Linked DNA regions of Homo sapiens. The protein of the gene in region 1 binds, or shares a complex with, the protein of each later gene. Each region holds a gene or a part of one and is shown on either strand. Other genes may lie near its edges. The genes, in order: DRC1, DRC7, DRC3 and DRC8.

Region 1 (7,644 bases):
CAGTGGACTAAGGTAGGTGCTTGGTTTCTACTAATATCTAGTTCTCTGTCTTTTTTCTTTGAACTTTTTTTCTAAACCATGTGACACAGCTCATGACTTCCATGCCTCCTCCCCTCTCTTTCCTCCTTCATGCCTTTTGAGGCAGTATATGAAGATGATGGTAAGGCAGTTCCCCAAATTAAAAATTGGTAAGATTGCCTTCTCAGAATCTAATTAGTAAAATTCACACAAATCGAAAGATAGAAATAACCTAAGAAGTTGTCTAAATGATGAATTTGTCAGCATCCTCACATTCCAATTAAGGTGAGTTAGTGTAAACTTATTGGATGTAGAATTAAGTGTGACTAGACTTAGTAAGATATAAAATCAAATCTGTTCATCCTTCTTGTTTTGAAAAAAGGCTATAAAAGCTGAAGGTGGATGCCCACATACCTTCCTTAGCAAGGGAAGCCCATATAGCCAGATTCCTCAAAAACCTACTCAGGGATGAGGAACTCGACTGTGCTTGTGGCAGATTATCCCCATTGTGAGCCTCTGAACCATGGCAGTCAGTCCTACATATCAAGGGACTTCCCAGTCAGAGTTTGATCCTCTTTGTGACCAGCACATCTCTGTGGGCTGATCTACACGAAAGGCACGAAAATGCACACTGCCCTGTGTGATGGTTGTACTTGCTTGCTAAAAGAAATTCTATGTTTTTCTTTTGTGAGCTTGTTAGTATGAGCCAGCCAGGCTTTTGTATGAGCTTTTTTTTTTTTTTTTTTTTTTTTTTTTTTTTTTTGTGAGATGGAGTCTTGCTGTGTCACCCAGGCTAGAGCGCAATCTCTGCTCACTGCAACCTCTGCCTCCCGGGTTCAAGCGATTCTCCTGCCTCAGCCTCCTGAGTAGCTGGAGTTACAGGCATGCACCACCACACCCAGCTAATTTTTGTGTTTTTAGTAGAGATGGGGTTTCACCATGTTGGTCAGGCTGGTCTCGAACTTGACCTCGTGATCCACCCACCTTGGCCTCCCAAAGTGCTGGGATTATAGACATGAGCCACCGTGCCCGGCCTGTATGAGCTTATTAGTATGAACCAGCATTGCCTACCAGTTGAGGACCACACTCTAGATGCTGGTCAGTCATCAAGGTGAATGGACATCACCTGCCTCCCTTCCCCAAGTCCCTCTCATCTATAACAGCCCTACTTGCCTGCCTCACTCTCTTGGGGGTCTCCTGTTATTTCTCTTACAAAAACATGAATAAATAAGCTTTATGTTTTATTGAGTCAAAAGGGATTTATCCTCATTGTAAACATTTTTTTTTAATCTTCAGGGAATCTGAAAATCACCCATAAGCCCACCCCTGAGGGATATTGACTACTTTGTGGTATTCCCCCTGTTTTTCTTGTGTACTACTGTCTACATTTCAAATCAAACTCGGCTTAGGCTCTATATTGTGCTGCCTGCCTCTTCCCTTTCTCATGTAATGTATCTTGGATGTCTTTCTAGGTCACCTTTATTCTTGTGTTAGAGAATCCCATGATTCTTTTATCGGTTCCCCTATTGATGGATTTTGTCATATCTAGTTTTTTAATATTACAAGTAACTGGAATGGACATACAGATACATCTATATACGTTTCTTTCAAAAAAAGTTTGTTGAGCACTTACTACATATCAAATATTGTGCTAGGTGCTATGTATAAAATACCGAATAAAACTGATATAGTTGTGACCCCAATGAGCTATAGCTAGATCCATGATCTCCTTGTGATGATCTTTAAACTAGAATTGCCTAGTGAATGGATATGCTAATTTATTTTTGTGTGTATACAAATAAATATGTTTTTATCTAGTTTTTTCAGTTTTTAACAATTTTCTAAATTTAACTCACTTATGAACTATTTACAAAGGCATGGAAAATTAAGCATGCATTTTCCCATTTATATTTAATCATAATTCATTACATGTCTTCTGACTTTCTTGTTTAGTGGTTTTTCTTTGTCTCTTTGTTTCATTCCTTTGACCTCTACAACCACAGTTGTCTGCCCCATGAAAATATTTCTTCCTCTCTCTGTCCTTTGTTCAGTTTAAAAAATTTTTAGTATTTAAAAAAATTCGGCAGGCCGGGCGGAGTGGCTCATGCCTGTAATCCTGGCACTTTGGGAGGCCGAGGCGGGTGGATCGCCTGAGGTCAGGAGTCTGAGATCACCCTGGCCAACATGGTAAAACCCTGTCTCTACTAAAAATACAATAAACATTAGCTGGGCATGGTGGCACACGCCTGTAGTCCCAGCTACTTGGGAAGTTGAGGAAGGAGGATCGCTCGAACCCAGGAGGTAGAGGTTGCAGTGAGCCAAGACTATGCCACTGCACTCCAGCCTGGGCAATTGAGCAAGACGCTGTCTCAAAAAAAAAAAAAAAAAAAAAAAGGAAATAATAGTTATATATGTTTATGGGGTACATAGTAATATTTCAATCCATATAATGTATAGTGATCAGGTCTGGTAATTAGCATGCCTATCAGCTCAAACATTTGTCATTTCTTTGTGTTGGGAATGCTCAATATCCTCGTTGCTATTTGAAACTATGTTATTGACTATAGTCACCCTCCAGTGGTGCAGAACACTAGAACCTGTCATTTTGTATCCTTTAACAAATCTCTCCCTATTCCACCCTTTACCCTAGTATGCCAATTTAAACAGTTAATAGATTTTGGCAAACTGTCCTCCTAGGAGGTCCCTTTCCAGCGGTGAGTGAAAGTGTTTCCCACACCAGTGAAAAAGGTTTATTACATAATTGAGGCTGCCTGTGGGAGCAAAGAGGGCCTCCCAGCTGGTCAGAAAATGGCTAGAGAGAGCCAGGAAAGGAGACAAGCTTGGGGCTTTTATTGTGGTTAAGGGGTGAGGCTGGGAGGAGGGTATCCTGTGCACGCAGATGAAATCTGCCAGCACCAAAAAGAGCACCTAGGCTTTTTTTAACAGCTTGCCCAGATGTGGAGAAGAAAGAGGGAGTGCTGCGTAAAAGCTGCCAGCAGCCAAATGTCAGCAGCAAAAAATGGAGTCAGATTTCTTATATAAAAAGATGTTGGAAGTGGTATCAGAACAGTGCAGGGCCAAGTATCTCACTGGTCACTCTTCATGGGTTTGTATGGTACCTTTGCTCTCACTTACCTCTTGTGCAACAGCTGATTCCCCCTGACTTTCTCATGGTATCCCACTCCCAGGCATAGACATGCGCATGCACACATGCTTGTTTCTGTCCTTACGGATAGTGGAAACATGAACCAGGACCTGGACGAGTTTTTGGTCAGAGCTGTATCATGGCTCCTAGGAGAGTTTAATACTTTAGGTTTCAACCAAAGGAGACAGAGATCTGGCAGAAGGCCCTGAAGCCTAGAAGCAAGTACCCCCGCTCCTACCACCACCACCTAGGCAGGTGTGAGACAAGGATCCAGGCAGCTGCTGTTAGACTCTATAGCTGTTGGATGGTTTTGGCATTCCTAAACCTCTCTACTGCTTGCAAACGTGGAAGAACTGATTTTAAAAACCCACTCCATTTGCCTCTGGGCAGTTCTTACTCACAAAGGACGGGTCGTCTTGGCCGCACAGTTGTCTGTGGGTTGCATCATTTAACAGCTGAGAAAATGCTCCTCAAGAAGTTGTGACTTGCCCAAGGTGGCAGGGCAGGGCTAGGACTAGTACTCACCCTTTCTCACTGCTCATCCAGTGCCCTTAATTCCCCACGGGCTAATGGGACAGAACCCTGTTAAATGGTATCCAGTTTTTGTTTGGTTGGTTGGTTGGGTTTTTTTGAGACAGAGTCTTGCTCTATTGCTCAGGATGGAGTGCAGTGGCTCGATCTCGGCTCACTGCAACATCCACCTCCCAGATTCAAGCGATTCTCCTGCCTCAGCTTCCCGAGTAGCTGGGATTATGGGTGCCCACCACCATACCCAGCTAATTTTTGTATTTTTAGTAGAGACGGGGTTTCATCATGTTCACCAGGCTGGTCTCAAACTCCTGACCTCAAGTGATCTGTCCACCTCGGCCTCCCAAAGTGTTGGGAGGCTGAGGCATGAGCCAGCGCGCCAGGTTTTAATTCTCAATGAGAACACTATTTTTGTTGACAATGAGACGCCCAGAAGATAGCGCCTTTCTGGGGACAGTTGAGAATTTAATAGTGCTTCCGCATTTCTAACTTTTATCCCTCCCCCCTCCCACGGACTGTTTTCCTCTATTCCACTTTTCCTCTTTCATAAGTATTTGATTGCAGGTTGGTATCCTGTATCCAAGCACAGCGCTTGGCATCGAGTAGGCGCTCAATTTTATTTGGTGAATATGAGTTGGAGGAATATTTGATGAATGAATGGAAGATGAATTAATCATCAGGGTCAGCAAGTGATGAACCACAACTTGGTCCAGTTCTTTAGTCCTCTAGTCTCCTGGTGAGACTCCACAGCTCCGCTAACACGACCGGGCCTTCGTGGGCCTGACAACAGACCTGACATCCCACGGGCGGGAGAGGCGTCAGCCCGAGGCTGGGATGCTCGGCCGGAACGGCGGCTGGCGGCAGGCTGGGCCCAGGGAGCTGCGCGCGCAACCACTCGGGCTGTGGCTCCGGTGACCGCTCTCCCTGGCAACGGTTTGTTCCTAGCAACCAGCCTGAGGTCTGGAGGTGGTGCGGAGGGAGCCGCCTAGGGACCAGGGACTCCTGCCATGAATCCGCCGGGGTCCCTAGAGGCCCTGGACCCGAACGTGGACGAGCACTTGTCCACCCAGATTCTCGCGCCCTCGGTCCACTCCGACAACTCTCAGGAGCGCATCCAGGCCCGGCGCCTCCGCATCGCTGCGCGCTTAGAAGCCCGGAGGCGGTGAGCGCGGGGGCGGGCGGGGCGGGATCCGCGCCGCAGGAGCCGGAGAAGGGCTGGTTTCCTGATGAAATAGAAACATTTCTTCGGGAAGGTTCAGGCAGAGTATGGGAAAGTAAAACGCTGGGCCGGTGCCGTGGCGCGCGCCTGTCATCCCAGCACTTAGGGAGGCCGAGGCGGGCCGATCACTGGAGCCCAGGAGTTGGAGATGGTCAACCTGGGCAGCATAGAGAGACCCCATCTCTATAAAACATCAAACAATTAATCGGGCGTGGTGGCGTTCGACTGTGGTCTGCACATGGCATCTTTTCCACTACGGACACCTCCAAACCACAGGGTCTGCTGGATCATGTGGCCCAAGTAGCCTGGCTGCTTACACTGTGGCCTGGGTCCTTTCTTGTTCCAGGCACCACTCAAAGCTGGCAGCTTTTTGTGTCAGCCTGAATAATATTCCTAAGTGCGGGATGTATTGTCTCTAGGACCCAAAGTGGCCTAAGAGGCATTGAGTTTCCTTCTCTGTAGAGGATGCAAAATGCAGTAGATTTGTTTTTTACTTGATAGGCTATCCCAGCATCCCACTGACCACTGGACCCCTACAAACTTGAATGACATGGCAGTCCCTGGGCCTTCATAGGGTTGATTGCCCACCGTCTGGAGCACACATGTCTTACCAAGCCCTGCAGTGTGTTTCCATCACTCGCTCACCCTGGCTGATTGCTGCGGGGCCATCAGTGGAATGCAGGGGCCGGCAAACCCTTTCAGTAAAGGGCCAAATAGTAAATATTTTAGGCTTTTCGGATCATATGGCCTCTTTCCTAGCTGCTCAATTGCCATTGTATTGCAAAAGCAGCCACAGGCAAGACATAAACAAATGGGCATGACTGTGTTCCAATAAAGCTTTATTTATGGACACTGAAATTTGAATTTCATATACTGTTCATGTATCACAAAATAGCCTTCTTTTGATAAAAAATAATAATAAACTTTATTTTTTAGAGCAGTTTTTAGGACCACAGCAAAACTGATCAAAAAGTATAGCATTCGCATATACTCCCTGCCCCCACACATGCACAGCTACTGTCAACATCCTGCACTGGAGGGCACATTTGTAACAATATATGAACCTTGGCGCATCGTTATCACTTGAACTCCATTGTTTACCTTAGGGTTTCTTTTTGGTGTTGTACATCCTATGGGTTTGGATAAATTTATGGTGACACGAGCCCACCAGTATAGTATTATACCAAATATTTTTACTGCCCTAAAAATCCCCTGTGCTCTGCTTATTCATCCTAGTCTTTTTTTAACCATTTATTTATTAACCATTTAGAATTGTAAAAATCATTTAAAATTGTAAAAACCATTTAAAATTGTAAAAAATCGTAGCTCATGCCTGTAATCCCAGCACTTTGGGAGGCCAAGGCAGGAGGATCACCTGAGGTCAGGAGTTCAAGACCAGCCTGGCCAACATGGCGAAACCCTGTCTGTACTAAAAATACAAAAATTAGCCAGGTGTGGTGGCAGGCACCTGTAATCTCAGCTACTTGGGAGGCTGAGGCAGGAGAATTGCTCGAACCTGGGAGGCAGAGGTTGCAGTGAGCTGAGATAGCGCCACTGCACTCCAGCCTGGGTGACAAGCACAAAACTCCATCTCAAAAAAAAAAAAAAAAAAAATTGGGCCGGGCGCAGTGGCTCATGCCTGTAATCCCAAAACTTTGGGAGGCTGAGGCGGGCGGGATCACGAGGTCAGGAGTTTGAGACCAGCCTGACCGACATGGTGAAACCCTGTCTCTATTAAAAATACAAAAATTAGCCAGGCATGGTGGCGCGCGCCTGTAATCCCAGCTACTCAGGAGACTGAGGCAGGAGAATCGCTTGAACCCAGGAGGCGGAGGTTGCAGTGAGCTGAGATCGTGCCATTGCACTCCAGCCTGGGCGACAGAGCGAGACTCTGTCTCAAAAAAAAAAAATTGTAAAAATCATTATTTGCCTGGAAGCCATACAAAAACAGGTGGTGGACTGGATCTGTCCCACAGGCCATAGTTTGCCAGTGCTGAAGTAATGGATCATTGTGATGTTCTCTGGGATATCCAGATGTCCCTGATATATTCAGAATATATTATGACAGAGATCAGGAGAACTACCATGGTCCTGTGAGTGTGACCGACTTGTGAGTGTATATCATTGTCTGTTCCATGTAAATGTGAACTTCCTGATTATTTTTCCTGATTGAGGTAGAAAAGCATGCATTTGGCCCAATCAGTAGCCACACATACTGTGCCTGAGGCTGTACAAATTTGCTCTAGTGAAGCTTACCACACTTGCATAGATGCTGTGTTCAGGAGTGCTACCTGTGGAGCTTCTGGTAGTTGACAGTCACTTTCTAGGATCCAGTTTCTGCAGGTGCCAGACCCATGAATTAAAAGGAGATTCAATAGGGATCACCATTCCTGCATCGTTGAGATACTTCAGGGTGGCACTAATCCCCACCAACACCCCTGGGTGGCAATATTTTTTTTTGTGTACTGAGGTGCAGTTTCAGAGATGTCCTTTTGGCCTTCCCCACTATGGTAGCTCTATTTATAGGCCAAGGAGTGGAGTTTTTCAAACTTCTAAGTATGTAGGTCCCAATTATACTTTTGGCCATTAGAGACATGATTGCTGGCTGAGTCCACAGACTTGGCAGACCCTCTGTAAGTAGGACTTTGCCTCCCCTGTGTCCTCACTCTAAGTGGGTGGGAGCATGCTTTGGGTCTCTGGGTGTCAATGGTAACTCAGACCCTGTTCTAATCCT
Region 2 (7,034 bases), on another chromosome or scaffold:
CAACATAGTGGGACCCTGTCTCTACAAGAAAATTTAAAAATTAGCTGGCTGTGGTGGCATGCACCTGTTGTCCCAGCTACTTGGGAGGCTGAGGCAGGAGGATCACTTGAGACTGGGAGGCCGAAGCTGCAGTGAGCCATGTTCATGCCACTGCATTCCAGCCTGCGCAACCCCACCCCACCACAAAAAATAAAAATAAAAATAAATTTAGAAAAAGAAAGTTGCAGAGCGGGGTCATAACACCCCGCTCTGCAACCCCCTGGGAGTCCCAGAGCTGGCTGTTCTCAGTTCTATCCCAAGTAGCCATCATGAGCCCCACATGCTGCCAGGCCTTTCTTGTCTGTTCTGTCAGTTCCTCTGAATGTCGTTGGCCAGGGCCTTACCCACATCACCAGCCTCCCTTCTCTGAATTCAGTTTCAGCCTTTATGTGAAATGGAGGCAGAAGGATCATAGTTGTATTCATAGTAATTCTAATAAGTGCATTCGTCTGGCATCACAAAGCACCACAGATGCGGTTGCTTAAATGACAGAAATTAATTTTCTTACAGTTCTGGAGGCTGGAAGTCTGAGATCAAGGTGTGGACAGGGTTGGTTCCTTCTGAGCCCCCTGTCCTCGGCTTGTAGATGGCTGTCTTCTCCCTGTCTTCACATTGTCTTCCCTCTGTACAAATCTATGTCCTAATCTGTTCTTATAAGGACACCAGTCATTTTTCTTTTTATTTTTTTTTGAGACAGGGTCTCCTCTGTTGCCCAGGCTGGAGTGCAGTGGCACGATCATAGCTCACTGCAGCCTCGAACTCCTGGGCTCAAATGATCCTTCCACTTTGGCCTCTGGAGTAGCTGGGACTACAGACACACACCACCATACCCAGCTAATTTTTGTTTTTCAGAGAGACATGGTCTTGCTATGTTACCTAGGCTGGTCTCGAACTCCTGGGCTCAAGAGATCCCCTTGCCTTGGCCTCCCAAAGTGTTGGTATTACAGGCATGAGCCACCATGCCCAACCAACACCAGTCATATTGGGTTAGGGCCCACTCTAATGAACTCATTTTACCTTAATCACCTCTCTAAAGACCCTGTCTCTAAAAACAATCATTCAAACAGTAAGTGATCAAGACAACAACAACAACAAAGAAAAAATAAGAAAAATAAATAAAACAAATACAGTCACTTTCAGGGCTTAAAACTTCAACCTATGAATTTTAGGGGGATGCCATTCAGCCCGTAGCAAAAGGTAGCACTCACATGGTCCTTACTAAGCACTGGGATCCATTGTATCTACTTAACCTGAAGTAACTCATTTAAATCCCCACAGCCACCTGGTGAGGTGGGCACTGGTATTACCACCTGTGATTAATATTATCCCATTTTACCGATGGGAAGACTCACACACAGAGAGGTTAAGTCACTTACCCAAAGCGATACAGCTGGTAAGTGACAGAGCTGGGATTTGAACCTACACAGTCTGGCTCCACAGTCTGGGTTCTCAATGGTAACTCTGTTCTACCTCCTGGGGCTGCTTGATGTGATGTGCTTGGCACAGCAGTGTAGACCATCTCAAAAGGGTGCTAAATGTTCTCAGCATCCTCATCTCCAGAGACTGGGGACATCTTGTGTGCAGTAAATCCAGGCATAGGTGCCCCCTGCTGGCCTTGGGGCATGGACCAGCCAGGGCCTGAGAGCCCAGCCCTGCAGGCAGCCGGCTGAGCACCCACATGGCTAATAATCAAACAGTTCCAGTCACAGAGTCCTGGTCCACCCTGGCCCAAGAGCCCTCATTACAGCAAAGACGGACAGAGGGCAGCCCAAAGAGTCAGAACCCAGTCATGGACCCCCAGGAAAAACCAGACCCCGGGTGACAGCCCACCCACCTGACCATCTTAGAGATTTTTGACAATACTAACTGCTGACTGCTCACTCATTTTTGTCCCCTGCAAAATGTCACAATTAGATAAACAGTTGTCAGAGGTATGAGCAATGTTTGTGGAAAAAAGGTTTTAAGTCGAGAAAGTCTTATCCAAGTTTCTGTGATTATCTAGTTTGAGGACCATTTATCTAGATCGGGCCTTATTTCACAAATGGGGAAATTAAGGCTCAGAGAGGAAATAATAATAGGCCGGGCATGGTGGCTCATGCCTGTAATCCCAGCACTATGGGAGGCCAAGGTGGGCATATCATTTGAGGTCAGGAGTTCAAGACCAGCCTGGGCAACACGGTGAGACACCACCCTCCTCCCCCGGCCGTCTCTACTAAAAATACAAAAATCAACTGGGTGTGGTAGGTGCATGCCTGTAATCCCAGCTACTCAGGAGGCTGAGGCAGGAGAATCACTTGAACCTGGGAGACGGAGGTTTCAGTGAGCCAAGATTCACTGCACTCCAGCCTGGGCAACAGAACAAGACTCCATCTCAAATGATAATAATAATAATAATGTCAGCCAATCAGAGCCCCAAGGCCTTTACAGACATTATATCATTTAATCCTCCTAAAAGGTCCAGTTTACAGTTAAGAAAACTAAGGCTTAGAGCAGTTAAAGGACTTGCCCAGGACCCCTTAGCTGGTCTTGGAGAGAGGGTGGGGCTTGGGTACCCTGACTCCAGAAACACCTCTCTAATCACGAAGGGCCTGCAGCCAGGGCAGGGGGTGCTGCTGTCCTAAGCCAGGCAAGTATAGGGAAGGGCTCCCTGCCCAGAGTCGACTCCTCCTTTTCCACATCATGGGTCGTGCTCATGACCTCCAGTTCCCCTGCGGAAGCCAACGGACCACCTTGGCTTGGCTCTGCAGGCAGAGACAGAGCTTTGACCATAACTTCTGCTTCAACACCCTGACCAGCACCACCTCCCCCACCCCCTTCTCTCCCATCAGGGCAAGGAGGATGAGGATAAGAGCTTCGACATGCCCCACTCGTGGGTGGAGCAGATTGAGATCTCCCCGGAAGGTATTTTCTATTTGTGTATTCACTTATCCTCTCCAGATCCAGTTCCTGGGCCTCCAGAGAGGTCTGCAACAGCGAGGCAGGGGGACACAGCAGGGAATGCCATGCCCCACATTTCCACCCTTCTCACCTTCAGCTGCACCCTCCCTCCCTCCCTCCCCCCTTCCTGCCACACGCACTCAGCTCTGACCCCGAGGGCCTGACGACCAGTCTGGCACACGGGGCGATGCAGTTCAGTGAGCATGTGTGGGATGATGGCGTGTAGGTGACAGCAAGGCCTGGAAACCCAGCCCATTCCCCTCTCACACTCTTCTACCCAGAGGAGGCCATGGGCAGTGCCCAGATGGTGCGGGGGGTCTCAGGACCGGAGAGGGGCAGGTAGAGAAGGCAGGAGGGCAGGGACTGTCATGCTCCATGTCAATATCTGCTGGTGCCCACCTAGGGAGCACCCAGACCTATGGGGAGGGCATGGGCCACTTCAACAGGGTGGGAAGTGCCAGAGAGGCTGTCATGGGAACCCAGAGGGGGGCGCACCCAGCCCAGCACTGGGGCTAGGGCCTGGGGATGGGTGAGCAGAAAGGGGTACCAGAAGTAGGCTAGGGGTCACCTGGGTGAAGTTTGGAAGGATCTGAAGGAGTCAGTCCAACAAGGGGAGGAGGGGATGACGGTGTTTCTGGCAGAGACCTGTACAAGCAAAGGCCTGGCAATGTGAGAGTGTGGTTGGCTGCAGGGCAGACCCTCTGATGGGGCTCAAATCCCATTCTTGGGTGGATCTGTGCTTCTGCCTGGCCTGAGAACCCCTCTAGGGCTGGAGCCACCCCTGGTGATTATTCTCCTCGGCCTCCCTGGATCAGGCTTGGGGCTGGAGGAGTTCAGTACACAGAGAACGGGCAGTGGATGGATGAATGGCTGGGCGGGGCTGGCCCTCCCTTCCCCCAAACTAGCAAGAAGAGACCACAGCTGACTGTGTCCACAGCATTTGAGACCCGCTGCCCGAACGGGAAGAAGGTGATTCAGTACAAGAGGGCAAAGCTGGAGAAGTGGGCCCCGTACCTCAATAGCAATGGCCTTGTGAGCCGCCTCACCACCTATGAGGACTTGCAGTGTAAGGGGGATTGCTCTGGACATGGGTCCAGGCCAGCCCAGGGGCGGGGGCGGCTTCTACTCTCTCTGGGGTCATTGCTGGCCTCTGTGTGCCTGGAATAAGGGGGGTTGAAGGCTAGGGGAGCTGGCCTGGCTGCGGCAAGTGTCCATCGGCCCCACAGGTACCAATATTTTGGAGATAAAGGAGTGGTACCAGAACCGGGAAGACATGCTGGAGCTGAAACACATAAACAAGACCACAGACCTGAAGACAGACTACTTCAAGCCTGGCCACCCCCAGGCTCTGCGCGGTGCGTGGCTCCCCTTTCCTGGGCCACCCAGGAGCCTGGGGTAGAGGCCTCACACACCCTGTGGCAGGTGGTATGTGGTGGCAGGAACCAGCATACATATTATACATGGGTTCTTGGGCAGCAAGCAGTAGAAGCTGCCCTGCCTCCCTCAGCAAACCCGATGTGTGGGAGGTCAGGGAAAGCTCAGAAATTCTAAGGAAATATAACAAATGCTCCTCCAGGAAAGCTAAAGGGGGCGCCACATACCCGTTCTGTGGTTGGAATCAGGCCGGAACCTCACCATGGGGTCACACGGTGGAGGCCACATTTAAAGGAGGCAGTGCCGGACACAGGGGCTCACACCTGTAATCCAAGCGCTTTGGGAGGCCAACATGGGCAGTTGAGCCCAGGGGTTCAAGACCAGCCTGGGCTATATGGTGAAACCCCATCTCTACAAAAAATATAAAAATTAGCCAGGCATGGTGGCATGTGCTTGTAATCCCAGCTACTCAGGAGACTAAGGCAGGAGAATCACTTGAACCCAGGAGGTCGAGGCTGCAGTGAGCCGAGATTATGCCACTGCACTCCAGCCTGGGTGACAGATAGAGATCCTGTCTCAAGAAAAAAAAAAAAATCCTGACCAAGAAATTTACAAAAGAAAAGCATAGGAGTAATATACATTTTTTTTAAATGATCAACCTCATTTGGAAGTTGATAATAAAAAAAAAGAAACTAATAAGGTCCCTAACCAATAAAGGACCATCTTATAACCCCCATGTTGGCAAAGATGAAAAAAATGGTCCTACTGGGTATGAACAAGTATGGGAGCAACAGTCACTCTGTGTCACTGTTGATGGGACAGCAGATTGGAACTTTTCTGGAGGACAGTTGGGCAAAATATTGATAATGACCATAAAACGTGTACGCTTTTGGCTGGGCACAGTGGCGCACACCTATAATCACAGCACTTTGGGTGGATCACCTGAGGTCAGGAGTTTGAGACCAGCCTGGCCAACATGGTGAAACCCCGTTTCTACTAAAAATACAAAAATTAGCCAGGTGTGGTGGCAGGTGCCTGTAGTCCCAGTTACTTGGGAGGCTGAGACAGGAGAGTCACTTGAACCCAGGTGGCGGAGACTGCGGTGAGCTGAGATCACACCACTGCACTCCAGCCTGGGTGACAGAGCGAGGCTGTGTCTCAAAAAAAAAAAAAAAAAAAAAGTACACTTTTGGGCCCAGCAATTCCACTGCTGAGAATTTATTCTTAGCAAATAATGGACAAGAACAAAAAATGCACGATGCAGATGTTCATCATGGTGTTGGTAATAATCAGAAAAAGTTGTACGCAACCTAAACACCCAGCAATAGGGGACTGGTTCATAGCTAACCTCATCCATAATGTGGGTCTGTCTTCTCCCTGGGCCTGGGGTTGGGCGACCAAGCCAGCAGCCATACTTCCTAGTGCTTATGAAGCTGTCTCCTCCCAACTCCCGCTCCCCACCCAGTGCACTCGTACAAGTCCATGCAACCTGAGATGGACCGTGTCATTGAGTTTTATGAAACGGCCCGTGTGGATGGCCTGATGAAGCGGGAGGAGACACCCAGGACAATGACAGAGTACTATCAAGGACGCCCAGACTTCCTCTCCTACCGCCATGCCAGCTTCGGACCCCGAGTCAAGAAGCTCACTCTGAGCAGTGCAGAGTCAAACCCCCGGCCCATTGTGGTAAGAGCTCGCGGGGGCTGGGGACAGGTCGCCCTCCTTCTCTGGCAGCTGATGTCACCTCTGAATGGTGAGAGCCCTGGCTCTGGGGTGGCATTAAGGCCTGAGACATATCCAAGGGCACCAATGATGAACCAAGCATTTTACCAAATGTATTAGTCTGTTCTCATGCTGCTTTGAAGAAATACCTGAGACTGGGTAATTTATAAAGAAAAGAAGTTTCCTTGACTCACAGTTCTGCATGGCTGGGGAGCCCTTAGGAAACTTAAAATCATGGCAGAAGGGTCCTTTTCACCTTCTGCCTAGTGAAAAGGGTCCTTTCCACCTTCTGCCTAGTGAAAAGGGTCCTTTTCACTAGAATCAGGGCAGCAGGAGAGAGAATAAGTGCTGAGCAAAGGGGAAGCTGCTTATAAAACCATCAGATCGTGGGAGAACTCACTCACTATCACGAGAATAGCATGGGGGAAACCACCTCCATGATTCAATTATCTCCACCTGGTCCCGCCCTTGACCTATGGGGATTACAGTTCAAGGTGAGATTTTGGTGGGGGGACACGAAACTAAACCATATCACCAAATGCGCCATCCTGGGGTTGTCTGGTGTCAGACTGTGCCCTCAGCCATGGGGCCAAGGATGTGTTACTTCCTTATTGTTATACAAAAATACACACTCATGACTAAACATTTGGAAAATATGTAAAAATGTAGAGAAAAGTAAACATATCTCAGAATGGCATCTCTCATATGTTGCCACGGATTATAGGTTTGGTTTTGAGAGTTTTTTCTAATGTAATTGAGATCGGGACCCAGGGATTAGAGTCCCTGTATTACCCACTTAACATGAAATTGTGCATTTTCCCCTTCATGTCATTACAAATTAGTTGGCAACTGTGTGTAATGGCAGCATGCCAAAGAAGCTCTTTCTAGCAGTAAGGGATGTCTAGCAATGGAGTAGGCTGCCTGGAGAGGTGGTGAGCTCCCCATCTCTTGAGGTAGGCAAG
Region 3 (7,034 bases), on another chromosome or scaffold:
TTAGTATAGATGGGGTTTCACTGTGATAGCCAGGATGGTCTCAATCTCCTGACCTCATGATCCACCCACCTCGGCCTCCCAAAGTGCTGGGATTACAGGCATAAGCCACTGCTCCCGGCCTTTAAGTATCTTTAACTCAAAATAATCACTATGCCAAAGCGGCATATTTTGGTGTGAAATGCTCTGAACCCCATGAAAGCCATGGCTCCTTCTACCCTGCCTACCAGCCTCTAATAAAAACCTGAGCTTACAGGGAGTGAGCACTTGCTAGTGCTCAAAGAGCCTCACATGTGTTCTCTCACTTGTGTCAAGGGTAGGGGCTATCAATCGCACTTTACAGACCAGGAAACTGAGGCATGGAGAGGGTAGGTAGCTTCTACACGCTTTCAGAGCCAGCAAATGGCAAAGCTGAGACTTGCACTTGGGCAGGCTGACTCGAGTCCAAATTCTTACCCACAAAACCAAATTGCCACCTGCCATTATCTAATTACACTTAGTTGTTGATTCCTAAAGTGCAGTCTATTGTTTCTAGAGTTTAAGTGCCATTCGAGAGGAGTTGGAACTGCCCAACATTGAGAAGATGATCCTAGAATGCAGTGCTGACATCAGTGAGTTGTTCGATGCGCTCATGACGCTGGAGATGCAGCTGGTGGAGCAGCTGGAGGTAAGGCTGGGCCCTGGGCACAAGTGCCAGAATCTGGCGATGCAGCTGCACATCCATAGGTGAACTGTAGCCTTCATGGGCACGCCTCTGCTGGAAACGTCCAGCACGACTCAGCGTGGCAGGCTGTAGCTTTCTTGCTCATCAGTCCTGTTTGCTTTTATTACATTTTAATCATTTACATTGGAAGTGATTCTTGTGGAAAATGAGAGGTGAGCTCATTCTTCTGAAATGGTCCCCCTATCCTGGAAGTCAGTGGGGAGAGGTTTTTGATTAGACCCCTGGAGCTATCCGGGTACTCTAAAGGCAAAGCGCACCCCCACTTGGGGACCAAACAAAGACCCCTCCGCATTGCAGCCTGCAGTTGCCGCTTCTCAGGTGACGTGAGGAGGCTGCAACTCAGCACTAAGTAGTGAAAATGAAAAGCGCCGCTGTCTGAAATTCATTAGCAGCCAGAGTATGTGTTACAAGGCAGCGGAGGCTGGGAGTCTGAAGTGGTGTGATGAATTGAACCTCATCGGATGCTGCTGTGGCTGGGCCAAGTGATAGCACCTAATCAATTCCTCACACGTCAAGTGACACCTCAGACATGGGATAGATTTCCCCATCACATCACAGGGCAGGTGCTCCCTCCCTGCTGGAGAGCACAGGCACTGCAGAAGCAGCGCACAGTGCCAGGGGCGAGTGAGGCAGCAGCTCCCAGCCTTTTCAGGCACGGAGATTGCCTTTCAACATCCAAACATTTCCCAGAACCCATGTGCCATCCTACTTGTATTACTGGTGGCCAGAAAGCCACAAGCGCAATCATGCTTTTCAATGACCCTATTTTTATTCACGAGAACAGCACATACATGTGTTTGAAAATTATGTGAGGTGCTCACTCTGCAGACAGTACTCACATTCCTATAGATTCCACCCCTGCCCACCTTGCAGCCCCTGGAGTCTATAGCAGATGGGAGTGGGGCACTCCGAGAGTGGCAGGCCTGGAGATCACATCTTCCATTGTTCCTTCAATCAACACTAACTCCCATTTGGGCCTTAGGTGCCTTGCTAAGCACCACAAAACAGCAACTAACTGAAAGAGATCTGGAGTGCCAGCCCGCTCCTACTGAGGGCCTCCTCTCTGTCAGGCACCTTGCAAAGCATTTTGTGTGAAGTGACTCATTTAACCTCACCACAACGCCACAACGCAGGGATTATGCAGGTAACCTATTTCCCAGATGAGGAAGATAAGGCCCAAGGAGGTGAAATGCCTTTCCCAGAGTTACACAGAGTGCTGGAGCTGGGAATACTGACCCAGGCAGTCTAGCTCTTAACAGCTCACTCCACTGTTTCCCTGGAGGTGATGCACAGATGTCACTGGGAAACCCAAAGGAGAGGGGGTTGGCTGTGTGTGTGTGTGTTGGGCAGGCAGGTAAGGGGAGTAAGACCAGGACAAGTGTTCCTGGCAAAGTTCCGGTGACAGCATTAAACATTCAGATGGTGAGGGAGTTAATATGGTTGGAGAACAACAACTTTAGAGAGAGCAGAGGGGTCAGTTCACAACCATCTGCTCAGGAGGGTCAAGATGGGTGGTCTTTATGCTGAAGGTCTGTGATTAGAGGAGCTGGTTGCTAAATTTTGAGGAGTACCTTTTGCTCTGTGCTGGACATCTAAATATGCATGTTAACTGTGTTCTTTAACATTTCCAGGAGACTATAAACATGTTTGAAAGGAACATTGTTGACATGGTAGGACTGTTTATCGAAAATGTCCAAAGCCTATATCCTTTCTGTGATGACCTTCCCCATGGGGAGGTGCTACAGAGCCCCTGGGCTTGTCCCGGCCTCTGGACAAAAGAATGTTCCACAGGGTCTGAGGAGGTTTCCCGACCCTCAGAACAATGATGGCCTGGTTAGAGCTGTGGTTTGGATGCCCAGAGGGACAACATCCAAACTGTTTGCAGTAGGCTCCCAGCATGATTGTTCTCATATGAGTGATGTTCACTAGGAAATGACGCCCCCTGTGTTGCAGGCAAGCACACTCTGGGGTTGAGGCAACCCCCACGTGGAAGACACTATAAGGAGTACATCAGGTGAAATGTTAGGGTGAGGAGCCAACATCGGAGCATGGCCAACCCTTCTTCCACCCGAACTCAGGGCACTCCACATGGGGCAAACTGCTGTGCTCCAGCTAGCAGCAGCCCTGTGGTCCTGCCCTCCTGGGGCTCACAGTCCCTCAGGGAGACAAGTTGTAGAGGCAACAAGTGGTGCCAAATGCACAGGGTGAGAAGCAGTTAACCCAGAGGCCAGGAGCCTCCATGCAGGAGGGAGAGAAGAGTGTGATGGCAGGGGCCGAGGGTCCGTCCGAGGTGTGGGGCAGGGGCAGGGAGTCGAGGAAGGCCCAGGGTTCGGAGCTTGTGAGTGGACGGTGCTGCCAGCCAGAATTTCCGAGCTCGCCTTGGGCCCTTAAAGTCTGTCTCCCGCCGTCTGAGAGCATCAGGGACGCGCCGGGCCTGCTCCTCCCGGGCCTTTGCTTAACTCGGGGCTGCACGATGGCTCAGTGCCGGGACCTGGAGAATCACCACCACGAGAAGCTCCTGGAGATCTCTATCAGCACCCTGGAGAAGATTGTCGAGGGCGACCTGGACGAGGACCTGCCTAACGACCTGCGCGCGGTAGGCGGGGCGGGCTGCTCGGAGCCTGACAGATGTGGTCCAGCCCAGCTCTGTGGCTGGACTGAGGCTCTGTGAGTAAGCCTGACAACCTCCCAGAGCCTCAGTGTTCTCATCTGCAAAAGGGCACACTAACCTGCTTTACAGGGTTGCTGGCAGATAAAATAGGCTAACAAAGCACCTGGTGGGGCACCCAGTGGGGCCCAGTTAAAGAGGAGCTCATGATAATTAGATGGTTTCAACTTTCCAACAGGGTCGTTTCCAAAAGTTCAATTATGTGGAGGCTTCTGGCACTTTCTAAGAGAAGCAGTTACAGGTAGAGGTTGAAGTCTGAGATTTCCCCTGGAGGTCTTCTTAACCTTAGAGTCTGTATAATGAGTACTGTGGGGGTGTTGGAACCACCATTTCTGATCCTGCACAATGCCATCCGGTTTGCACCAGCACATCCACTGATGAATGGTCACAAAATCAGCAGGGTCGGCCTGAGGAACCTGGCTCCATCCCTGGGGTCTGCACGCTAAGAAGGCTCTCCCGGATGTCTGCGCTGGGTCCCGCGGCAGCATGTCTATGTCTCTGGAAGGAGTGTGGGCATCAAGGGCCCAGACAGAGATACTATGTTGTCAGGGCCCAGACAGAGATACTATGTTGTCAGGGCCTGCTTTAGTGCATGCATCATTCACTCCACTGCCAGTTTCTCAGCTTCTCTCTGTCGCGACATCACCACCAAGGCAAGCCACCATCGTCCTTGGCCTGGACTGCTTGCCTCTTTACTGTCCTCTTACAGTCCGTCCTCCATGTGGCAGCCAGAGGGACCCTTGAAAACCCAAACCCTATCACTGCACACTTTTACACAACACCTTCTAGTGGCTTTCATGACCCCTAGCGTCAGCTCCTCCCCATAGTCCCCCAGACCCTCGGGCTGACCCTGCCCATCTGGGCGATTCCCACCCCCAGAACCCTCACTCCTGATGCTCAGCGGCAGCCTCTGAGCTCTTCCCCAGTCACCCAGGCTTGCTCCTTTCAGTTGATATTCCACCTGGCAGACACGCTCTTCCTAGGTCCCCATGTGCCTGGCTTGTCCTTGTCATTCAGATTTCAGCTTGACTATCAGCTCTTGGGAGAGGCCTTTCTTCATCAACTTCCAGAAAAACCACTGTCTCTGTATCACATGCCCCATTTATCAGGTCAGGTCAGAGCCTCATCATAGTTTCAAACTACCTGGCTGATGTGTATTTGCTGCTGATGTGACTATTCACACTACATGTAAGCTCAGGAGGGAGGACGGGGATGGCCTTTTCACCACCATGTACCCCCTCAGTACCAGCAACAGTGTACAACATGCAGCACAGATGCCAGGCATCATCTGCAGAATGAGTGTGAGAGCGTATGCTCACCAAGCCTCCACTCTGCCAGATATGGGGCTAAGTCTTGCAGACACACAGGACCAGCAGTCCCTGACTTCCACAGCCTCTGTCCTGGGGCCCAGACAGACACCCAACATAGCAGTGTGGTGATAGGGTCACCGTGACACCAGCCTTCCCTCCCTAAGCTGATAACTGCAGCTAATTGCTATTGACCAGACACAGGAAAACACCACCTTCCCTGTGAAGTAAGGCTGTCCCTGAGTGCCCAGTTTGGAATTCCCCAGACAGACCATCTTGGGGTGGGTGGAGATCCCTCCCAGCACAGCTCCCATGTCTGTGACACCCAGAAGGCACAGGACTGAAACGTGCCCAATTTCTAATGACTAGGACACACAGAAAAAGATGAATCCAGAGGCCAACAGCAGAGAAGCAGGCTGGGCTGGCATTTTCAGTGGCCAGCCCTCCCTCCAGCCCAGCTGGCTCTGCCTGGTGCCAGCTGACCACCATTCCTGTGGCTTTACGCCTGCAGTTATAGGAAGAGACTCCCCAGGACCTTATACCATGGCCTAAGTCTCCTTCCATCTAAGCAACAAAAAATGTGACCTACCCTTCTCAGGAGGAAAAAGTATGCTCTGACTATATGAGTAATACCAACATCACTTTGAAAGGCTGAGGTGGAAGGATTGCTTCAGCCCTGGAATTTGAGACCAGCCTGGGTAACATAGCGAGACCCCCTCTCTACAAATAATAATTTAAAAATTAGGTGATGCGCACCTGGTGGTCCCAGCTACTTGGGAGACTGAGGTTGGAGGATTACTTGAGCCTGGGAAGTCAAGGTGAGCCATGACTGTGCCACTGCACTCCAGTCTGGGTGACAGAGCAAGACCCTGTCTCAAAAAAATAAAATAAAATAAAGGAATAATACATCGCTGACATTTGACTGGGGGCCTCCTGAGGGCCAGCCCTCTGGGAAGCACTGAACTCATGTTTGCTTTTTTAATCTTCACATCAACACGGAAAAGTAGGTACTATTATGGTTCCCTTTTACAGATGAGGAAACTGAGGCACAGAGATGAAGGTAACCTGCCCAAGGACACACAGCTTATAACAGATAGGGTTGTGATTTGAACCAGGCAGTTTGATTGAAAGCCTTTGACAAAATGTCTACTGTATAGCAAGATGGGGATGTTCAGAGGAGGGACTAGGGCTGTGGGTGAAAAAAACCTGGCTTCTGTTACCTAATTATCAAGGAGCATATCTTGATAAGTCACCCTGATGAGGTTATCTCTAAAACTCCACTCATGCAGTTGAGTGACTGTTATCAGCTCATGACCTACATGGGGCCAATCTGTCCCATATCTATTTTCAAGTCCTTCCAGCTTTGAGAGGAAAAGCAGAACGTACATGCTGAGGAGAGAGCCTGGAGCTGGCACTGAGGGAGGGCATCTGAGTGGTGCTGGCAGCCACAGCTGCCCATTTAGGGAGGTGGGGAGGACAGAGGTGCTGCCTGGCTGCTCTGAACATCCACGCGGGTATCCGGCTGCGAGGGCAGGGTGAGTGCTCAGGCCCAGGGAGGATGCAAGTCCCCAGGGTCTGCTCAAGTGGCAGTGGGTCTGACCCAAGCCAGCAGTCTCTGGACAGGGAGACTGCCACAAGATTCTGGCTGGCACCAGGAGACTCCGCGTTGGCTTGTCCCTGCCCATCAAGCCAAGCTGCTCATTTGTCTGTGGCAGAGGAGAATGCAGGGTTGTCAGGTGCCCTTTGTGGGTATGATGGAATGATCTGATCCCACATGCCATGGGGCAGCAAGTCCTCAAGCCACTAGCAGTGCGGTGGTCCTGGGGAGGGGCACCAGCTGTTGCCTTCTCAAAAGTCACTTTGTTGCTACCCAAAGCAACCTACAGATTCAATGCAATCCCCATCAAAACACCAATGACATTCTTCGCAGAAATAGAAAAAAAATCCTACAATTTAGAATCACAAAAGACCTTGAAGAGCCAAAGCCATCCTGAGCAAAAAGAACAACGCTGGAGGCATCACATTACCAGACTTCAAAATATACTACAAAGTTGTAGTAACCAAAACAGCATGGTACTGGCATAAAACAGACACACATTTCTCCAAGAAAACACCAAATGGTAGATGACACTATGGCAGCAGGAGGGCCCAGAAGCCTGGAATGGGAAACCATGGAAGCTTTGTCAGCAGCTTCTGGGGCTAGGATTGTGGCCATAGTCAGGGCAGGGGCTGAGGCTGCGGGGAGCTCTCAGAGGCAAGGTCCAGGCAAAGGAGTGGATGCCCATCACCAAGCTGGGCTGCCTGGTCAAGGACATGAAGATCAAGTCCCTGGAAGAGA
Region 4 (3,690 bases), on another chromosome or scaffold:
TTGGTCCCCTTGCCTTCTCCCATACAAAGCTAGAGCTCTCTGGTTCACAGACTGGGTCCTGAATGACTCAGAGTTGCTAATCACTTGAGGCAGAATGAAAAGCGCAAGTGATTTTGAGTAGGGAAGACTAAGACTGCATCTACACGCACAACTGGTTTGACCATTCCAGCTTCATCCACCTTAAGGCGGAATACAGAGAGTGAGGGTCAGAATGGCAAGGCCGTCACAGCTGCCACCCAAGAACTCTGACGCCATTGTTAAAATTACCTTCGGGATTAATTCTGATGGGGATGTTACGACTTTCAAAGCATCAGCTTCTTCATCCTGAGGATTAGTCTAAAGAAAGTAAATCCTAGGTTATATATCAGGCAACATGAATTTAGTCAAAATGGCCCAAACAGTTAGATTTTCCTACTGTTGTGTGCCTACTATATGTTTAATATTTAGTAAGTGTAGTAAGGTATAATGATACTTAAATCTACTTCCTCTCTCAAGGATATTACAATCTTATTTGGGAAATAAAACTAACATAAAATAATTCACAATACAAGACAATAGAAAGCTAAATATCAGAAGATCAACTAGGGCTGGCCCAGCCTGGAAAACTTGGTTTGGGAAGACTTAAAGAGAAAATAGGTTTTTTGAGATGGTAGAATGTATATGGTTAAATTGTTGAGGGCAAAGGTAAACTCTTGTGCATTATAATTCTGTCACACATGGTAGATATCAACAAATGTTTGTTGAATGAATGAGTGAATGAGTAGATGATGAAGACCAGGTGAAGGGGCTAATGAGAGGGAGACATTATCGATGTGTAAAACAGTCTGAACAAAAATGGGGAGGTAGGAATGAACATGCTATTTCAGAGAGAAAATAAGCCTAGCTGGCCCAGAGGGTAATGTTGGCAAACAGCAGGAAATTAACTTCAGTAGACTTACTGGGACTAAATTGTGGAGTCCCAGGCTCAGGAGTTTGGAATTCATCCTGTGGGCGATGGAGAAGTATTACAGGCTTTTGAGCAGATGACTCACATGGTGTGTGAGTGATTGTGAGAAGGTTTTTCTGGTGCTGGTCGGTTTGTTAGATGCATAAGAAAGAGGTTGGACTAGGGAGGCCACTTAGAAGGTTATTTCAGCATTTTGAGGGCACCCAAATAAGGGCCTGACCTGGCAGTGGGAATGGCAATGGGAAGAAGGGATTGGTACAATAGGACTGTCTGTGGCAGGATCCATGGGTCATGATGAGTAACAGAGTGTAGGCGACAAAGCTGAGAGCTGAATCCAAAGTACCACCAAGGCTTTGCCCTCGATGGCGAGTATGATGGTAATGAGACTGACTCAAACAGAAAGGTCAGAACAGACCGCAGTGTATACAGAGACAGTGCGACCACGTGGTTTACTTGGAGGTGCTGTGTGATAATTTCGAAAATGGTATGTTTACAGAGAGTTCATGGTACTTAAAGATCAACTATTGAGTATCTCAGCGGACTAAGCATAGGACAGGTATGGTCAAATAAGAATACATATGTTTTCAATTATTCACTCAGCAAGTATTATTACAAACCTTCCACATATATGAACCAATATGTTTGGAAGTAATATGTAAGATGTAAATCTATACAAATCTAAGTTACGATTTAATATAACAGACCCATCAGCTAAGTGTAATAGCAGTTGACTAGTTTGGTAAAATAGGAGCTTAAGAATTGCTGCTTTGAGAGTCTCAGAATTCTACAAATTGTTTTTAAGTACATTTATGCTATATAACAATATGGATTCAAGCTACTTGCACATTCATCCTAATATCCACAAAGTATCAAACACACTAGTTTGAGAATATGCATTCCTACAGCCCTGGATGTCATATGATAAAATAAATCACACTGAATCAAGTTCCTACAAGATAGAAGTCCCTAAGTGTCCAGGAATGTGTATTGCATCAGACAGTGTTTAGCAGCCGGGAAGATCTCAGAACAATTTTTTAAACAAACACTTGCATGTTGCTGCTTCTATGCCAGGTACTGTTCTAAGTCCCATTCAAATCATAACACGTTTCATTCTCATGACAACCCTATGTGACAGGTGGTGTCGTTATCACCCCCATTCTAGAGACAGGTAAGCTAAGGTGGGGAGCTGTGAAGTGACTTGCTCAAGATCTCAGAGCTCGTGAGAGGCAGCCAGCATGTGGATCCAAACTTGTGCTTTAACCACTCAGTTATCTTCCTTCCATCTTTCATCAAATACTGGGGCTTCAAGTTAATCCTCTGGTAATTTCAAAAGTTTTAATCTAAATAAATAACCTTGTTCATGATGTCTGTATGTCTTCCTACTGTTTTGCCTGAAATGACGTGTTCTAGAGGTTGCTTGATCTATGACATCTGCAGGCTAAAAGAAGTCCAGAATCTACCAGGGTGTACAATAGCCTTGTCTTTGAACCTCTGGACTGTCGTGATGTCCTGGCTCTACAGCTCCAGGGAGCGTAACTAGTGGCACTGTGGGAGCTTGTGGGGCTCCATGGCTATTAAGCTGGCTAGTGGAAAGAGAAAAAAATCAGATGATCCTAAATGATAAATTTTCCTTTTTGTCTCTCTGAGGTGAGCCTTTTTCTCAAGAGGAAATGGAAGAAATGTTGTCTGCTGCAATTGATCCAGAATCAAATTCAATTAATTACAAGGACTATATAACAATGATGGTGATAGATGAAAATTAAATGTTCTAAAGATAATTTCTGATTGAAAGAACAATTTTAGAAATTGCTTGTTCTTGTTAATTTCACATCTTATCTTAGGATTCCTATATGTGATATTTAATACCTTGTGACATAACTATTTTAAGACACTTTGTTTTTAAAGATGATCGTAACACTTTAAACCAAATTTAGTATGTCTAGCCTTACAGAATGATAAATTACTATTTATTTAAAAACTATTCTTAAAACATTTTAACATTAGAATGGATTGTTGTTTATTTTCTACAATAAAACTCAGGTCACCTTCGAATTAATTAAGCTGACAAAATGAAAATGACTTAATTACCCAAGGTTTGGCATGTAAAGATCTTAAGAGGGGGCAGAACGAACCACTCGAAAACGAGTAGCAGTGTAATGAAGGCTTCTTTTTTAAACAATAACAAATGCTTCATCAATCTGAGTGTGGAAGGTGATTTATCAAAATAAATATTACTAATTTATTTTTTTATGAGTGCCAATTACAAATATCATTTGGGATAATAATAACTTAGTGTAAACATTTATATTTGCTGATCCAGCATGTCACCATTTATGGAGTAGCTAAAGGAGTTGAGATCATTGGAACTAGAGAAAAGAAGGTTGAGTGGAAGTTGATAGTGTAAGGTAGTGGCAATTCTCCCTTTGTCTTTAGAATTCTCACCCACTCCGCATATCTGTCATGGGAGCATTGTCCTGAATACTGAGTAAGAATACTGAGAAATGTTATGGTGTGCAAATGTACAGCTCCTGAAAGAGCAGAATGAAGCACAAGCAGTCACAATGGAAAAATATATGGCATGGCCACTGCCTCCTCCTTGCAATTCTCTCCGATCTTGGCATCTTATATGGCAACTATATGGCAACTTACAAGCAAAGGGGAAGATAAAGTAAAGGGAAGTGAACAATTTTCCAAACTTAGATATTCTGTTATAACAAGACACACACACACACACACACACACAC

What was found.
Region 2: DRC1 (region 1) and DRC7 share a complex: the UniProt entries of both Homo sapiens proteins name them as parts of the nexin-dynein regulatory complex.
Region 3: DRC1 (region 1) and DRC3 share a complex: the UniProt entries of both Homo sapiens proteins name them as parts of the nexin-dynein regulatory complex.
Region 4: DRC1 (region 1) and DRC8 share a complex: the UniProt entries of both Homo sapiens proteins name them as parts of the nexin-dynein regulatory complex.

What each region holds. Positions count from the first base shown.
Region 1 is NC_000002.12:26,397,292-26,404,935, forward strand, and holds the start of DRC1 (dynein regulatory complex protein 1), read left to right. Parts: upstream 1-4,628; 5' UTR 4,629-4,698; coding exon 4,699-4,853; intron 4,854-7,644. UniProt on the Homo sapiens protein: Component of the nexin-dynein regulatory complex (N-DRC) a key regulator of ciliary/flagellar motility which maintains the alignment and integrity of the distal axoneme and regulates microtubule sliding in motile axonemes.
Region 2 is NC_000016.10:57,718,800-57,725,833, forward strand, and holds part of DRC7 (dynein regulatory complex subunit 7), read left to right. Parts: intron 1-2,867; coding exon 2,868-2,940; intron 2,941-3,913; coding exon 3,914-4,042; intron 4,043-4,202; coding exon 4,203-4,331; intron 4,332-5,815; coding exon 5,816-6,036; intron 6,037-7,034. UniProt on the Homo sapiens protein: Component of the nexin-dynein regulatory complex (N-DRC) a key regulator of ciliary/flagellar motility which maintains the alignment and integrity of the distal axoneme and regulates microtubule sliding in motile axonemes.
Region 3 is NC_000017.11:18,003,831-18,010,864, forward strand, and holds part of DRC3 (dynein regulatory complex subunit 3), read left to right. Parts: intron 1-532; coding exon 533-664; exon of another isoform or gene 665-674; intron 675-2,352; coding exon 2,353-2,423; intron 2,424-3,193; coding exon 3,194-3,317; intron 3,318-3,567; coding exon of another isoform or gene 3,568-3,615; exon of another isoform or gene 3,616-4,104; intron 4,105-7,034. UniProt on the Homo sapiens protein: Component of the nexin-dynein regulatory complex (N-DRC) a key regulator of ciliary/flagellar motility which maintains the alignment and integrity of the distal axoneme and regulates microtubule sliding in motile axonemes.
Region 4 is NC_000001.11:245,084,652-245,088,341, forward strand, and holds the end of DRC8 (dynein regulatory complex protein 8), read left to right. Parts: exon of another isoform or gene 1-2,108; coding exon of another isoform or gene 2,109-2,143; exon of another isoform or gene 2,144-2,593; coding exon 2,594-2,709; 3' UTR 2,710-3,186; downstream 3,187-3,690. UniProt on the Homo sapiens protein: Component of the nexin-dynein regulatory complex (N-DRC), a key regulator of ciliary/flagellar motility which maintains the alignment and integrity of the distal axoneme and regulates microtubule sliding in motile axonemes.